Linked DNA regions of Homo sapiens: region 2 is linked to region 1. A link means that fine-mapping ties the variant in region 1 to the expression of a gene that starts in the linked region. Tissue or cell type: cerebellum. Region 1 holds a variant in brackets; the other region holds the start of a gene. All regions are shown on one strand. Distances are between the middles of the regions.

The links. PIP is the estimated chance that this variant, and not a neighbour inherited with it, causes the effect.
Region 2: it holds the start of DNAH2, and the variant in region 1 is fine-mapped to the expression of DNAH2 in cerebellum (GTEx, PIP above 0.99).

The regions. Positions count from the first base shown.
Region 1 is chr17:7,775,733-7,779,732 of GRCh38, reverse strand. DNAH2 (dynein axonemal heavy chain 2) reads right to left here. Exons shown (of 86, transcript NM_020877.5): 31 at 3,584-3,709; 32 at 2,844-2,954; 33 at 2,099-2,287; 34 at 1,553-1,656; 35 at 1,264-1,453; 36 at 310-490. Among named protein-coding and RNA genes, the nearest start is that of KDM6B, 56 kb to the left of the region's middle. The variant A/T (reference allele first, on the strand shown) is at 2,484.
Region 2 is chr17:7,712,751-7,720,126 of GRCh38, reverse strand. It overlaps DNAH2 (dynein axonemal heavy chain 2), which reads right to left and starts at 2,383. Exons shown (of 86, transcript NM_020877.5): 1 at 1,328-2,383; 2 at 227-406. The coding sequence starts at 392.

The DNA of each region.
Region 1 (4,000 bases):
AAAGAGATGGCAGAGAGACCAGAACTCTTGGAGCTAGCCTAAAGGGAGAAGAAAGCTAAGTATCTTAAAAGATGAGGGCTACATATACACACATAAGTGGTTATTAATCCCTTTGGGGAAAACAGTAAGATTGCTTCCCCTTCTCCCGGAAAGTTGTGTTTATCCTTCTCTCCCCTTTGCTATCTTTAGCCAGACTTCACTTAGCTATATACATTCGCATGGAAGGGGGAAGAGGAGGATGCGCAGTTATTTCCCCTGAACACCCAGTTCTTCCCACCCCAGGAGTCCCATCCACTCCCTGCCACCTACCAGGATTCATGGTAATGAAGATCCCACAGGACCACACCAGATTTATTTCAAAGCCATCAAAATGGAAATGGGTGAGGCCGGCAGCCAGGGCAGACAGGATGCACAGGATCTGGTGGGCCACCACTGACAGCACCTCGATGTTGATGCGGTTAAACTCATCAAAGCAGCCCCAAGCTCCAGTCTGCGGGGTGCAAGGCAGAGTCACTGGGAGCGAGAGGTGCCCCAAGAGGCTAGAAAGCGTGATTAACGCACCCTTCCTTCAAATGTTTCAATAGGCGAGGCGGCCTCCAGACTAGGGGGCAGGGAGGAGGGCACCAGAGTACACTGTTGTAGCTTCTGGCCAGAACTTTCCATCAGATGGGGCCAATCTGGGGTGATGCTAGAAAAGGTGTGGGTTGGAAAGAGACTGGGGTAGGGAACTTGTGTGCACTGTCTACTCTGCTCCAGTTAACACACATTATTTTCTTTAATCCTTTATAATCTTCTGATTTTGCAAATAAGCTACATGAAGCTCAGGAAGGGGAAGGGACTTTCCTAGTTGTAAGAATTATACGTGGCTGGGCGCAGTGGCTCACGCCTGTAATCCCAGCACTTTGGGAGGCCAAGACAGGTGGATCACCTAAGGTCAGGAGTTCGAGACCAGCCTGGCCAAGATGGTGAAACCCCGTCTCCACTAAAAATACAAAAATTCTCCGGGCTTGGTGTCACACGCCTGTAATCCCAGCTACTCAGGAGGCTGAGGCAGGAGAATTGCCCGAACCCAGCAGGCAAAGGTTGCAGTGAACCGAGATCATGCCACTGCACTCCAAAAAATAAATAAATAAATAAATAAGAATTACATGTGATGCAATGTCATGAAGCTACAAAGCACTGAACCAGATTTGGGTTTCAGTTTATTTTCTGGGACGAAAAGGTATTTAAGGGGCTTCTGGCACAGGGTGGCAGGATACTGACCTGGGCCAGACCTGAGTACATTCGGCCCATGGACTTGTAGTCCAGGCCCTCAGAGCAGTTGACCACAATGACATATATGCCCAGGGCCTTGCCCAGGTCCTTGACGGTCTCGGTCTTGCCTGTGCCTGCAGGGCCTTTGGGGGAGCCCCCTCGGTGCAGGTGCAATGCCGTGGTCAGTGTCATGTAACACCTGAGAATTGAGGACAGAACTAGAGTCAGACTCCTGGAAGCCTCTCTCAGCTTCTGCTGCCCCCCACCCCAGCCACCTCATTCATCCCACATGGCAGACCTGTCCGTCAGGGGGGTGATGACGAGCCGGCCCGAGTTACCCAAGTACTCATAATTATACTGAAATTGCGTGTTGGTCTGGCGGATGACACAGTCATCAAGATCCTGGGGAAAACAGCGCAGAAAAAGAGAGAGGTGGGCTTGGAAGGAGAGTTAGAGCTGGGACAATGACTGAGAGTGGGGCTCAGAGTTGTCAGGGAGGCTGCAGTGAAGGGATCAGGGGTTCCCTTTTAGAGTTGAAAAGGGGAGCGGTTTATGGGCAAGATGGAAAATGGGTTTCATGTTGCACATCCACCCCGACCCAATGCAGCAGCTGCCTGGAGTGTTTCTGAGTCCTGTTCAAGTGACATTCATAGTGAGCCCTGACTGGGACAACTACTTGCCACTCCTGATTGTGGGGAGGAGATGGAAGGAAGAACCGGATTAGGGTAGTGGGACAGGACTAAGGGTTGGCTTAGGATATCCTTGCATTTACAGAACATGGATGCAATAAAAGCATTAGGATCCATTTTACGGTAAGAGAGTGGGGAGGTGGCCCATCTGGCACCTTCTCCCAGTAGAACCGAAGTTGGCTGAGCCAGTCAAAGGAATTGACATCCATGAGGCCACTCTTGTAAAGCTTCTCCAACACATCCCGGGCATGAATTTCTATCGTCACCAGAGCCACAATTTTAAGCCGCATGATCTTGGTCAAGTTCCCCCTGATGGCTTCTGAATACTTATTCAGGATTGACACCTGTGGCATGAAGCAGCAGGGAAGAGAGCAGACAGAGCAATGCCGCCAAAGCCTGATCAACCCTTGCCCCTACCCAGCACCGCTTCCAACCCGGTGCTGACCCCACCTGCTGTAACTCCTGGTAATTCTGCTCTACCACGGACTGCCCCCACTGGACTTCCATCATAAAGCACCCTCGCTCTGGCCCTTTTCCACC[A/T]GCTCACCTCTAATTCTGACTGCTCCCTCCCTGCAATTCTAGCTCCAGGCCTAGCCCATACTTGCAGAGCACCCACCTACTTTTTTCTTTTCTTTTCTTTTCTTTCTTTTTTTTTTTTTTTGAGACAGAGTCTTGTTCTGTCGCCCAGGCTGGAGTGCAGTGGTACGATCTTAGCTCACTGCAGCCTCAACCTCCTGGGTGTGCCACCAGCTAATTTTTGTATTTTTTGGTAAAGAAGGGGTTTCGCCATATTGCCCAGGCTGGTCTCGAACTCCTGGGCTCAAGCGAGTGGGCTCCTACCACCTCTGCCTCCCAAAGTGCTGGGATTACAAGCATGAGCCAGTGCGCCCAGCCTCTCACCTGGTTCTTCTTCATGACCTTGAGGATTTTCTTGTCTGCCCGCTCCTTCGCTGTCAGCAGGCACTTGGTGACATCAGCCGTCCACTGGATCTGACTGGCAGTGATCACCACCTGGGGATGTGCAGAAGCCACGTCCCAAAGCCCTGTCCTTGGCTACACGCACAGCCCAGCTCCCAAGTCCCAGCTAATTCAAGAACCATGTGCCTCTCCCAACTGCACCCAATCTGCTCTGAAGGATGGGACATGGGCCTCAGGTCAGGAGCTAAGGGTCCAGCTTGGAGTGTACCAGAGCCACAGCTCAGAAAGGGGGGTAAGAAACCACACTGTGTGAGACTCAAGATTCTGTCTTTCCACTGGCCACCTCCTTTTAACTCCATCTTCTCGTTCCCTCATTTCTTCATTTCTTTCTTTTTTTCTCTTTTTTTAGACAGAGTCTTGCTTTGTCACCCAGGCTGGAGTGCAGCGGCACAATCTCGGCTCACTACAACCTTCACCTACTGGGTTCAAGCTATTCTTCTGCCTCGGCCTCCTGAGAAACTGGGACTACAGGAGCACACCACCACACCAGATAATTTTTTGTATTTTTAGTAGAGACGGGGTTTCACCATGTTGGCCAGGCTGGTCTTGAACTCCTGACCTCAAGTGATCTGCCCACCTCGGCCTCCCAAAGTGCTGGGATTACAGGCGTGAGCCACCGTGCCCAGCCCCTTGTTCCCTCACTTCTGTTGACCCCAGCTCACCTGGCCAGCCCACTCCTTCACCCATTTGTCCCTCTTGTTGAGGAACTTCCTGAGGGCCAGGTGGCAGTTCCGGAGAAGGTCCCGCAGGGTCACCCTCATGGTCTGTTCCACATCGCCAAGCCAGGACTGGGGGGAGGTGGGAGAATAGGGCAGCTCAGCCTGAGGGGGCACGGCCAAGGTCCTCCACAGGGAAGGCACTTATGGAGCAGCACTTCAGGGCTTTGTACCCAGAGAAAAGCGGGAATGGCCAACAGCTGGCTTGCGTTCCTGAGAGAAATGGAGGCTAGGAGGCAGATGATCTGACTTTCAGAAGGAAATTTCGGTTCAGAGCAGAGATGGTCATTGTCAGGAATGGCAGGTGAGATGGGAAAGAGTGACTAACGGCCATTTAAAGAGGTCTTCTCTCCTCATGGAGCC
Region 2 (7,376 bases), 61 kb after region 1:
GAAATTTTAAGACAGAAAGAACAAGGATGAGGCTGGCCAGGAGGAAGACATACAAAAAAAGGACTCAGTGGCAGGGCTGCTGAACCTCCATGGCTGGGGGCGTCACTTAGCCCGTTTCCTGCCCAGAAGCAACAGCGCCTGCTCCCCAGCCCTAAAATGCCTCCAAGCCCCTCTGACTTTCCCCACCCTCCATTGCTAAGCATCCTCTGCCCCAGCAAGTACCCACCAGGCTCCTCCTTGGGGAGCTCAGCCTGCAGCTCTGGCTCACTGACAGCCGGGGCATTCCCCTGCTCCTGTGTGGCCACAGCAGCCCGAGTGGCCCGCCCTGACCAGCTTGCCTGGGAGCTTCCTCGGCCACTCAATCGCTGCTTCTTCTCAGCTTTGCTGGACATCGTGCAGGCAAAACCTACAGGTATACAGGAGTGGAGAGTCTACAAGCAGATACCACCCCTGAACCAGCCCCCTGATACAAGCAGTCCCTTTTGAATTCATAAATTGACTGAAACTCAATATGATCATCTTTTCTGGTGGTACCCACACCCTGCTCCATTAACCACAAGGGCTCTGTACTCCACAGGGGCCTGGGAGGCCTTGCTGTTTTTCCCTAGGATATCCTACTGTCTTCGGGGCACTGGGCTAAAAATCAAAGTCAGTCCCTCAAGGCACTAGGAACAAATGGGAGTTAAAGATGATGGCCAGGCTGGGTGCGGTGGCTCATGCTTGTAATCCCAGCATTTTGGGAGGCCGAGCCGGGTGGATCACCTGAGGTCAGGAGTTCGAGACCAGCCTGGCCAACATGGCAAAACCCCGTCTCTACTAAAAATACAAAAAATTAGCCAGGAGTGGTGGTGCGTGCCTGTAATTCCAGCTACTCGGGAGGCTGAGGCAGGAGAATCTCTTGAACCCGAGAGGTAGAGGCTGCAGTGAGCCAAGATCATGCTACTATACTCCAGCCTGGCTGACAGAGTGAGACTCTATCTCAAAAAAAAAAAAAAAAAAGATGGCCAGACACCCCACTAATGAGGATTTAGAACCTCTATCTCTGCCCCGGGGTATGAGAACATAAGATAATCAGGAAAAGATCTATCAAGCTGAAGTGTGGTTGCCCAAACCCTCATCCACTCTACCCTCCAGGACCATGAGTGAGTGAGAGAGGATCAAGGAAGGGGTGCACATCCCCCATCCTTTGTCACTGTTCAATCATTCAAGCAAACCAAGATGATTTTCCTATGTACCTCTTTTCCTCCCAAGTTAAATGGAAATATGCTCCTCCCAATCCCACTAAAATCTGCAACATCTGTAAACAGAGAAAAACAGTATTTGCCACCTGGGTCTATCGCTTTGAAGTCCTGAGGGGCAGGAACACTGTTTTGTGTGTACTGAGGTCTCTTAGCAGAGTTGGCTGAGGAACTCTGTGCTAATGGTTAAGATCAGTCAGGATCATTTATTTGACTCAAAATGCCCTGAGAACAGATTGGAAGAAAGAAGGACAAAAGTCATCCAATCATAAATTTCAAATTGTGTCATGAGGAAAAAGCAATTGGGGCACGAGGAAGGTCACAGTGGTGCCTCTCTCAGAAAGGTAGGATGGCAGGAAGCGGGGATCTCGGACAGGTGCTCAGAATCCCAGGCGCAAAGTCTGAGGCGCTGGGCACTCTCTTTTCATTAGGCTGCAGCCTAACGGCACCTGTGGCTCTCCTTCCTCATCCCCACAGGCTGCCACAGGCATTGATCTCAGGTTATGAATTTCAAACTTGAAGGATTTGTACTTTGCTCCAAGGAAAAACGTTCTGTTAGGCCAGCAAATCAATAAAACCAACTACAGCAAGGAGGCTTCCTCCATCAGTCTCCAGAGAAGCATCAAGCTGCGCTTTCCTGCCTCAAACTAGAGCCTGAGGCGCATGCACCGTGGGGTTCACCACGCGATCCCACACCGCAGGCCCCAGGAGGAACTGCTCTGCTAAGTCGGGGCTCACTCTAGTACTAGGAAATACCGCAGGGGCCAGCAGTATTTATCCTGCAGTATAAATCCAGCAGTATTTATCCAGCAGTATTTATACCAGCAGCTGGTATCCTTAAACTGGTTACCAGCAGGCAAATTTCCCCTCAGAATGGCTCTTCCCCCCCAGCTGTCACAACTGCCCCTTCTCCTCCCCCTCCCCCACACAAATATTCCTTGCTCCCTCTCCCTCCACAACTGCCTCTTCTCCCCAACAACTGTCCCTTCCTACCCCGACACTACTGCCCCTTCTCCCCAGCACTCCTTCCCTCCTTCCCTCTGCCCCCGACACACACCTTGCCACGCTGACCCTCCCCTCCCTAGACCGACCGATGGGCCACTCTAAGAAGTTGCCCCTCGCAGCCCTCTCGGGCCGGCGTCTGCACGCGTCCCCATGGCAACCCCGGGCAGGGAGGGGCGAGTGGCCGGTGTGCGGCCCCTCGGAGCCCGCCTCCTCCGCGCAGGCGCCCTGGATCCCTGCTTCGCGGCCCCACCCCGCCCAGGTCTACCCCTCAGGGACCCAGGGCTTGAAGGCTCCGGGACTAAAGGAAAGTAGCCACATCTGGCGAGCCGAAGGGTGCGGGGGGCCTGGTGTCAGGACCCAGCTGGAAGGGCTGGGGCGAGAGACAGTGAGCCACCGCCCCGCAGGACATTGAAAAGGCAGGGAGAACCCAATCGCCCGACCCCGCGCCCAGGTCTGTGCGCCCCAGCCGGAACGGGTCCAGCAGATGGCGCCGGGCGCCAGGCCGGCGAGGGATATTCGCGATGTAGAAGGCGTTCCAGGATTTCCAGGCAGCCGTGGGTGCAGCTGGATCCGGGGGAAAAACCGGGCCTGGAGCACCCTTGCCCTCCTGCTCCTTCCCCCTTCTTAGTTCGGATTGGGGTCTAGGATTGCGGGGGGGCGGCGCGGGGCGGGGAAAGGGAGGGAAGACGGGAACTGGAGTTTTGGGAATCTGAGGATTGGCTTTCGAAGGCATCGCTGGTTTTTGGGGGGGATGAGAGGCGGGGACTCCCTGGGGAAGGTGACCGGGCCTGGGAGGGGCTTCGCTCTCCATAGGAACAAAGGCTGCGTCGTGAGAGAGGAGGCGAGAGGGGAGGGCTATGAGGGCCGGGGTACATCTCCGAGGGTGCCAGGGGGCGCTGCGGGCCGGGGCTGCTAGAAGGCGCCTGGAAGACCGCTGTACCTGGTGCCGGGAGGAGCTTTGGGGAGACCTGGGAAATACAGGGAGGAAGCCGAGTGGGGGGATGGGAAGGCGCCCTCCCTGTTTCCATCAATAGTGCCTAATTAAGACAAAGCCAGCAGCGAGCCCACTGATTACATTTCCATGAGGAGCGAAATTTATGACATTTTCTTTGCTGGATGAGGAGAAGAGAAGCTGGCACCTCAGTTCCCCCATTTTCTGTTTGGCGTTCACACCTAACAGATCTCATTATGCCAGCCTGGCACTACCAGGAGTGGCAGTCCCTGGTACTCCTGAAGAGCAAGTGGATTAACCACACCCTATCCCAGCGCTGACCTCACCCTCCCACCTACCGTATCTTTATTCCCAGAAGTGTCAACCCTTTCCCTCCCCCCGACCCCCAATAATTCCTCCTGCCCAGCCAGACTCCTGTTGCTGACAGCAGGAATGGAAGGAGAGGAGTACCGCCCACCCCAAAACCAGCTGCACAGCTAGCACAGCTAAGATGGAACGTGGAGGTGTTCCTCTAGCCAGATAGGCCATGGGTGGCAGACAGAGGTGATGTGGTTGGCCAGAACCCCTAGGGAAAAGTCCCAAAGGAGTGAAAATTTGCTGGAGGCGTGGGGTGGGGAGCCTCAGGGGCAAGGTTCATGGGTCCCTCGGGGAAAGGAACTTTGCACAGACCCCATTTCTTTTCTTAAACCCCCCTCCCCAACTGTGGCTGTGCCTACGGATCCCAGCCCCCCACATTATGCTAAATAGGTAATCAAACATCTCGCTTTGCTAATTACTGCTCAATCCGATTAAACGCTGCTGAAGCTCATCAACAGAGGTGGAGGTAGGGGGAAGGGACGAAGGCGGGGCAACCACAGCTAGCTATGATGGGGGTCTTTTCCCCAGGGGCTCTTCGGGGCTAGAGAAACAGCCAGGGTTGCAAGACCGTGTACATCCCAAAGGAAAGGGCAGAAGAGTTGTGACCTCGAGCCTCAGCCTTGCTGCACCTCCCAGCCACGGCCCTTTTCCTCCTCCCAGAACCTTCATTACCCTCCGAACCCAGGCATCCGGCCATTCCCACAGCTCCCCACACACATCCCTGTCCCAGATTTAATAAGTTCTGTTCCCTCATTGTCAATATTTGATTTCTCAGAGCCATCTCCACGGAGAGGGGGGTGGGGGATCTTTCCTTGCCTCCCCCCTACTTTGGCCCTCTTTTGCCCACCCCCAGTCTCTTTGTGCCCCCAACCTTCTCTGAACTTGCTGACTTAATGAAATGATATTAAAGTCTTAAGCAACTCCAAAAGAATGGTTGTTATGGTGAAGGGAGTGGGCAGGACGCCTGGGTCCCGGAGGGGAGCAAAGGCTGAGGAGGGGGAAAGGGAGCCAGAGGCTAAGGTCTAGAGACCCCAGTCCCTAGTGGGGAACAGCAGATTTGGGGTGAGCTGGGGGCCAGACCTCTGGATCTTGGCTGGAAGCAGGGGATGAGGACTGGGGGCTAGGAGAAGGTGGAAAGAGAGGTCCATTCCAGGGGTCAGGGTCTCGGCCTGCTGTCCGGATCATTCATCAGAGACAGAGGCCAGGGGAGACAGGGCCTCTATGCCAGCAGCCTCCCTGCCGGCTGTGCCCTGGGCTGGTCCCGTGAGAACCAGAGTAGATTACTCTACAGCCTGACTCATCCTTCTCCCCCAGCAGCCCCCCACAGGTGATTTGTAGCTGATGCCCCCACGATGGTAGGGGCCAGGATAGTCATTCCATGACATGAAGAACTGAGAGCTTCCAGGACAGAAGAGAACAGAGGCCAAGGGAAAGGAAGCCAAGCACCCCCCTTCACCTCCCCCCACCCATCCCCATCTCCCCTGGGGACCCTGGCCCAGCCCCAGTCCCCTTGGGGTGGTGGGAATGCAAGGACATTTGGCTGGGGCTGATTGATGAGGGAGGAGGCAGCCACCGGGCACTGAGGCTGCTGTTTGCTGAGCACACAGATTCCTCCCAACTCACCAGCTGCTACCCCCTGAAGCAGCTCAGTCTCCCCCCGACATCACCCCGCCAGCCACTGGGGTTGCGGTGCCTGAGTTTCTGATGGCAACTGGAGGAAGAGGGAGAACCAGAAAACTGAACACTTCGATTCCCTGTGGGAATTGGGGTACCTGGGGCCTGGTCCCCTCAGAACTCCCTTCAGAACTCCACTTTCCCTGCTACCTTTCAAGTAGCTCTCTGGCTGCCCAGTTGTCATTCCCATTCATTCTGTGTCCCTTTTCCTTCCCCCACCCAACTCTGAGCCTATGCCAGACAGCCTCCTGCCTCCAAACCACCGTGTGACATTTCTCCCAGGTCTCAAAACTCTCCCAAGCCCCATGTCCACGGTGGCCCATATAGCCCCTTAGGAAGGGCCATTTTTCATTCTAATTAAAATTCCAGATATGATGTCAACCATTCCGCATCAGAAATTCCCACTGCAAGGCCAGGCACAGTGGCTCACATCTGTAATTCCAGCACTTTGGGAAGCTGAGGTGGGTGGATCACCTGAGGTCGGGAGTTCAAGACCAGCCTGGCCAATGTGGTGAAACCCCATCTCTACTAAAAATACAAAAAATTAGCCGGGCGTGGTGGCACATGCCTGTAGTCCCAGCTACTCGGGAGGCTGAGGCACGAGAATTGCACCACTGCACTCCAGCCTGGGCCACAGAGCGAGACTGTCTCAAAAAAAAAAAAAAAGAAAAGAAAAAGAAAAGAAATTCCCACTGCCACTCCTTGCCCCATTCCCCTTTCCCTAAAAACCCCCAACACACACACACACACACACACACACACACGCACACACACACGCACCTCGGGCTGAATAGTATCCCTCAGCTGCCGTTATTTGGAAGGAGGGCAAAGCCTGAGCTTCACTCTACAGCTCAGCCCCAAGACAGCCTCAATCCTATGCGGTTTGGGGATGGCAGGGCGACAGCTCTAGCTTCTGTGGTCCCAGCCCTCTCGGTTCCTTTACTTCCGCTCTGCCTTCCTGCTCTGGACTCTGCCAGCAGCTGTGCCACAGCCCCCAAAAAAGCTCAGAGCATCATCCTTGCCCTCCCAGAGCTTAAAATTTAGACGAGGAAAACACAAGTCACAGACACACAAGAAACAAAAGGCAAGGGGATGGGAGACTGAGTGAGATCAACTTCCTTAATGTGGATCCAAGACCCTAAGTGACTTACTCCCCTCCAGGCCGAGGCTAGGGAAGAACAGGACACATCCGAAACATGCATGTGGTGGTGATGTCCTTCTTACTGTTCCCAAACACACCACAATCTCACCTCTGTGCCCGTGCACTTGCTGTTCCTCTGTCTAGCATGCCCGTCCCCAGTGTGCATGGCTTACTCCTGTCTCATGACTTAAGGTCCTGATCAAGGGCATCTCTTTCAAAGGGACCTTCCTGACCTCCTCATCTAAAGCAGCTCCAGGCCGGGTGCGGTGGCTCATGCCTGTCATCCCAGCACTTTGGGAGGCCAAGGTGGGCTGAGCACCTAAGGTCAGGAGTTCGAGACCAGCCTGGCCAACATGTTGAAACCCCGACCCTACTAAAAATACAAAACTTAGCTGGGCAAGGTGGCGGGCACCTGTTAATCCTAGCTACTTGGGAGGCTGAGGCAGGACAATCATCGCTTGAGCCCGGGAGGTGGAGGTTGCAGTTAGCCGAGATCGCGCCACTGCACTCCAGCCTGGGCAACAGAGCAAGATTCCATCTCAAAAATAAATAAATTAATAAATTAATAAATAAATAAAGCAGCTCCTGGTTACTCTCCATCCTCCTCATCCTGTCATTCTGTTTTGTTTATATCCCTTTTCACACCTGAAATTGTATTATTTCGTTCCCCACCTAAATGTGGACTTTGTGAAAGCGGGGACCTGGCCTTACTCACCCTGTCCTCCCAGCGCCTGAACCGGTGCCTGAAACAAAGTAGCATTTAACATGCTGCTGAGCGAGTGAACGAACAAACCAATGAACAAACAAATGTCTTCCTGTGCCTGTAGTCGTTTTGCTGTAGTTGTTTTGTTGCAGTTGTTACTCTAGGAATATGTGTGTGTATTTGTCCCCACAAAGCAAATAGGACGGCCTGTGTTATTCTGCGTGGAAGTCACCAGCATTTTCAAATAGCTCCAGACACCCAAGTCACTACACATGTGAAAGGCTGTTGGTCTTGTGCTATTCGAGC